Regions from separate parts of the Homo sapiens genome. Here region 2 is linked to region 1. The links come from fine-mapping of genetic effects on gene expression. A gene starts in region 1. The other region holds a variant in brackets. All regions are shown on one strand. Distances are between the middles of the regions.

Region 1 (2,500 bases):
GCAACAGAGTGGAGAGGTGAAAAGACCAGGTGCCTGCTGATACTAGTTTTATTACCAGCTCACTCCGCGTATAATGGGTTTGGCTGATGGAGGAAGTCAACCTTGCCTCTATTTAACCCTCACTAAACAGTGTAGGCCAGCGTGGTGACTCACACCTGTAATCCCAGCACTTTGGGAGGCCAAGGCGGATGATCACTTGAGGTCAGCAGTTCGAGATGACCCTGGCCAACATGGTGAAACCCCGTCTCTACTAAAAATACAATAATTAGCCGGGCGTGGTGGCGCGCGCCTGTAATCCCAGCTATTCGGGAGGCTGAGGCGGGAGAATTACTTGAACCAGGGAGGTGGAGGTTGCAGTGAGCCGAGATTGCACCACTGCATTCTCCAGCCTGGGCGACAGAGCGAGAGACTCCGTCTCAAAAACATAAACAAACAAACGTGTACAGCCCTCCATTTGTTCATGAAGGCCCAAAAGTGAAAACAAACAGACTAGGTCTGCAAAATATTCTCAAAGTCTCAGATTTTTAAAAACACACCCCTACAGGGGGAACAGCACCAGTAATTACATTCACCAGGCCACAACTACTGAAATGGGTGCAATCTCACTACCCAATTCCCAGTAATGCTACAGCGAAGTCTCCTTCACATCAGTAGCGAGAATTACAACGCCCAGTGTCTTAGTCACAACTCTTCCTGACGCTGCTCCCTGGGGCTCTGCTGGGAATCCCGAAACACTCAGGTCACCTGAAGTGAGAACAAATCAAAACGGGCCAGGGGAGGGAGTCCACGAAGTTCTCCAAGTGAGAACTGGAGAGTACGTCTCAGTTTCGTAAATGACACAGGAGCTGGGTCCCAGGGGGCGGAGGTCTTGGGCGGTGCCACCGGGCACCTGCCTCCCGGCAACCAGTTTCGCCTTCAGCGCTCCACTTGGCTTCAGCTGACTTGGGCGTGGACACAGAGGTCGGGGTCCCCGCGCGGGCCGCGCCTGTGCGCTCGCAAGAGTGGAAGAGAAAGTGCGGAGGGACGGAGCGCAGGCGGGCCCCGGCCGCCGCCCTCCCGGGCGTCCCCGCTACCGGCCACCTGAGAACCGGGGAGGGGGCGGGGGACTGGGCGCAGCCCTGCTCACCTTCTGGATGGAGGACTTGCCGCTGCGCCGGAGTCCCATGAGCAGAATCCTCGGCTTGGAGCTGTCAGCGCCCCCCGGACCACAGCCACCGCCTGCCCCTGCCCCAACCCCTCCGCCCGCCGCCGCCGCCTCCTCTTCCTCCTCCTCCACGCCGTAGCCGAAGTCCTTTGGAAACGAATCGGCCGCGCCGTAACTGCCGGCGAGGGGCGTCTCCTCCGCCCCGTACTGCAGGGACATGGTGCTGGAGCCGCCGCCGCCCGCGCCCTGACAGGCCAGGCCAGGCCGAGCCAGGCCGCCGCCTCCCCAGTCCGCCTCCGCCGCCGCCGCCACCACCGCCACCGCCCCCGGCAGCCGCCACAGTCCGGCCCGCCCCCCGGAGCCCGGCTCTCATAGGCCCCGAGCCGAAGCCCAGCCGCTTATTGGCCGCCCGAGCTGCTACTCGAGAGCAGCAGGGTAGGTGGTGCCCCGTCACGTGCCGGAATCACCTGACTCAGAGCCGCGGAGGGGGGAGGAGGAGTCACGAGGAGGGCGGCCCGGCCGCGCCTCTAGCCCCGGCTCGGGCCCTCAGCCCTCCGCCCCGGCCCGCATACAACGCTGTCTGCACCGCTCCCCTGCCTTCTTCCGGGCTCCCAGAGCACCGCTATGGAGATGCTCTCCCGGCATTTGAGGAAGAATTGATTGTCCTCATCCTGCAACTGTACTTGCCCAACCGATATTTATTGATGCCTGCAGTGTCCTGGGTGCCTACCAAGGGGCACAGAACTGGATCCGACGCAGACCCTGCCTGCCTTCAGGTTGCTTGAAGATGAACAGAGAGATCGGACCTCTGCGTAAGTAACCTCGCTACGAAATATTATGTGGGAAGGTCACGGATAAATAATGCTCGGGAGTTGAATGAGAAAGCGTCTGAGCAGATCTAGGTGGATGGATAGATTGGGATGTGCAAAGGTATGGGGGAGCCAGCCACACTGAGGGCAAACCTCAACCAAGGCAGAGTCATGGGTCACCGTGATAGTTTGTTCTAGCAGGTAGCTGGACCCTGATGGGAAAGCAGATGCAGCCAAGCTAGAACATCTTATCTTCTTTCTTCAGTAAGTCGCCGATAGTGGATACTGCTGCCACTTCAAACCCAACGGGACTCAATTTGCCCTCCTTCCCGCCTTGTCAAAGTCTACTCTAGGAATTCCATCCCCCATAGAACACTGCCTCTTCTATGACCTCGTTCAGATTAGAGACCAAAGTATTGAATAATGAAAGCAAACAAAAGCAAATGCTTGTCACCAAATATGTCCGAGAAATCTAGAGGAATTTTTATTTTTGATAATCAGGCTCTAGAACTGGAAGTTTGAGAAGAGGATCCTCTTAAAGCACAGC
Region 2 (3,023 bases), 38 kb after region 1:
ATCCCCATGGTTCTTACCACCAGAACATTCATAAAATAGCCTCCCATCAGAGCATAGACTCCTCCTGAAGCTCCCACAAGATATCTGAGTGGGTCAAAGATGGAGCTGGCAAGGGACCCTAAAGAAATAAAACACAAAGGATCAGACATGACTATACGGATCAGGAAAGATAAATCTTTCTAATCTAAGGTAGACATTTGGGAAGTCTGGTCTATTATCACATTAGCAAGCAACAAATCTATTTTGCCCCTTTCATACCATAGAAGCATAGCTGTATATGCTAACTACCACAGTGTTTCTGAAAACATGGAATGTTCATTAGAACAGCAACATAGCAGTGACAATGGCAGAATCGTCTGGAGCCAGAATTACCAGCAGTGTGACTTGAGGAAGTTAGTTGACTTCTCTATGTCTCAGTTTCCCTACCTGCAAAATGGGGCTATTAATAGAACTTACCTTAATGGATTGTCAGGGTAAATAATGAGTTGATGTGTGTTTTGTGCTTAGAATACTGCTTGATGTGTATTATATATTTGTTAGCTATTAGGTTGGTGCAAAAGTAATTGCGGTTTTGCCATTACTTTTAAGGGCAAAAACTGCAATTATTTTTGCATCAACCTAATATTATTGCAAAATATCCTATGTTCAGTCAAAATACCTGAGACAATCCAACATTTTATTATCTAATAGCTATCTTTCTCAATGAGCCATAATGTGCCCTCAGAATCCTTCTCAACATACGATCCAATCAGATTCCCCAAGCAAGATGAATCCTAATTGCTAACCTAATCCTAGATTTACTGGACCAAAACAAGGCTTTGCAAACCACCTTATGCAAAGACTAAAATATTCTCTCTATACTGCTTAGTTCTATTACTTGGTCTATTCCTTTCAAGGTCTTCTTTCATTTCCTTAGTGTATGATACAAAACAATACAGTACCTATTTTGTGCAAGAAAAAGTGTCTGTCCTCAGTAATTTTACAAAGAGATGAGCAAACAACTATTATAAAGTACAGAATATAACAACTACTATGACAAAAATAAATTTATTGTAGAAGCACTTAGGAAGGAGTGATTTTCTCAGCAGAAGGGTGGAGTCCTTGCTACTCTGAGGAGGAGGAGATAGCATTTTCATTAAACTTTGAAGAATCTTTTTTTTTTTTTTTGAGATGGAGTCCCACTCTGTCGCCCAGGCTGGAGTGCAGTGGCGTGATCTCAGCTCACTGCAAGCTCTGCCTCCCAGGTTCATGCTATTCTCCTGCCTCAGCCTCCCGAGCAGCTGGGACTACAGGCGCCCGCCACCACGCCTGGCTAATTTTTTGTGTTTTTAGTAGAGACGGGGTTTCACCATGTTAGCCAGGATGGTCTCGATCTCCTGACCTCGTGATCTGCCCACCTCGGCCTCCCAAAGTGCTGGGATTACAGGCGTGAGCCATTGCGCCCGGCCTAAACTTTGAAGAATCTTTAAGATTGGCCAGACACTGTGGTTCACTCCTATAATCTCAGTGCTTTGGGAGTCCCAGGCAGGAGATTGCTTGAGGCCAGAAAGTCAGGAGTCTGAGACCAACCCGGGCCACAGAGTGATATCCGTCTCCAAAAATATAAGAAAAATATTAGCCAAGCATGGTGGTACCCGCCTGTGGTCCTTGCTACTCAAGAGGCTGAGCCA[A/G]TAGGATCACTTGAGCCCAGGAGTTTGAGGCTGCAGTGAGCTATCATCGTGCCACTGCGCTCCAGTCTGGGTGACAGAGGAAGACCTCTCCCCTCACCCCCACACACAAAAGGATTGGATAAGAAAAACAAAAGAGAAGAAGGTATTCAGGACTTAGAGAACTGGAAAAGCAATGGCATACAAACAGGTATATGGATGACTGAAGATCAGTGAGAAGTAGTCCAGTAGGCCGGGCACGGTGGCTCACGCCTGTAATCCCAGCACTTTGGGAGGCCATGGCAGGTGGATCAGCTGAGCTCAGGAGTTCGAGACCAGCCTGGGCAACATGGCGAAACCCCATCTCCACTAAAAATACAAAAATTAGCCGGGCATGGTGGCAGACACCTGTAATCCCAGCTATTTGGGAGGCTGAGGCAGGAGAATAGCTTGAACCCTGGAGGTGGAGGTTGCAGTGAGCTGAGATGGCGCCACTGCACCCCAGCCTGGGCAACAAGAGTGAGACTCTGTCTCAAAAAAATTGAAAAAAAATAAAATTAGCTGGCTGTGGTGGCACATGCCTATAATTCCAACTACTGGGGAGTCTGAGGCACGAGGATCACTTGAACCTGGGAGGCAGAGGTTGCAGGGAGCTGAGATCGCACCACTGCACTCCAGCCTGGTGACAGAATGAGACTCTGTCTCAAAAAACAAAGAAGTAGTCCAGAGCAACTTAGAGCAATGATTCTCAAATGCTAACCTATAGACTAGGGCTGGGGTGATTATATCATAATCATATGAGAAATTTATTTTTAAAATAGATACAAATGTCTACTTCTGACCATGATAAGGTCACAAGAATAGGATTTGCTGTCTCACTTGAAAAAGCCAAAAGCACTGGACAACATATAGGAAAGAATGGTCTTCAAGATACTAGACATCAGAAAACAAAACCAGTAAACCCTTAGAGACAGGGAATCAGTTATTAATAGATGAGTTATCTGATTGCCCAGGTACTACCTTGAGGGAGATTACAGAATACAGCGCATGAAGCAGGAACCCAGGCAGATCTCAGCAAACTTTAAGTTGATGAGATGAAGTTTAGAGTCCAGATAGATCTGGACTGCTAGAGTTTACAAGACAGGGTACCAGAGAGCAGAAAGCTGCATACAGAAAACTCCAGAAAGGAGCATGCAAGGAAATTACCCAAGCCAAGGAAAGAACCACCAAAAATGAAGTGGGAAGACTACCTGTTGCTTACACAGCACCAGAGAGGCTAAGTAACTTTCTGTACTGGAAAACTCTTTTGTTTCCACACATCATAAGTCTGGGCATTTTATGACAGGTGAGTTACATCTCAATCTTAAAATATATCAG

Direction of the effects. Positions count from the first base shown, and alleles are read on the strand shown. Sizes are in standard deviations (SD) of each study's normalised expression.
For the expression in skeletal muscle of the gene that starts at base 1,489 in region 1, G is the high allele of the variant in region 2 and A is the other (small effect, 0.21 SD a copy in GTEx).

Evidence for each region. PIP is the estimated chance that this variant, and not a neighbour inherited with it, causes the effect.
Region 2: its variant is the best candidate, but not a certain one, in a credible set for the expression of RRAGC in skeletal muscle (GTEx, PIP 0.63).

The regions. Positions count from the first base shown.
Region 1 is chr1:38,858,284-38,860,783 of GRCh38, forward strand. RRAGC (Ras related GTP binding C) reads right to left here and starts at 1,489. Exons shown (of 7, transcript NM_022157.4): 1 at 1,127-1,489. The coding sequence starts at 1,363. RRAGC-DT (RRAGC divergent transcript) reads left to right here and starts at 1,610. Exons shown (of 2, transcript NR_186075.1): 1 at 1,610-1,956. RefSeq lists a silencer at 1,019-1,778 and an enhancer at 1,414-1,708.
Region 2 is chr1:38,895,952-38,898,974 of GRCh38, forward strand. RHBDL2 (rhomboid like 2) reads right to left here. Exons shown (of 8, transcript NM_017821.5): 5 at 18-118. Among named protein-coding and RNA genes, the nearest start is that of GJA9-MYCBP, 16 kb to the left of the region's middle. The variant A/G (reference allele first, on the strand shown) is at 1,671.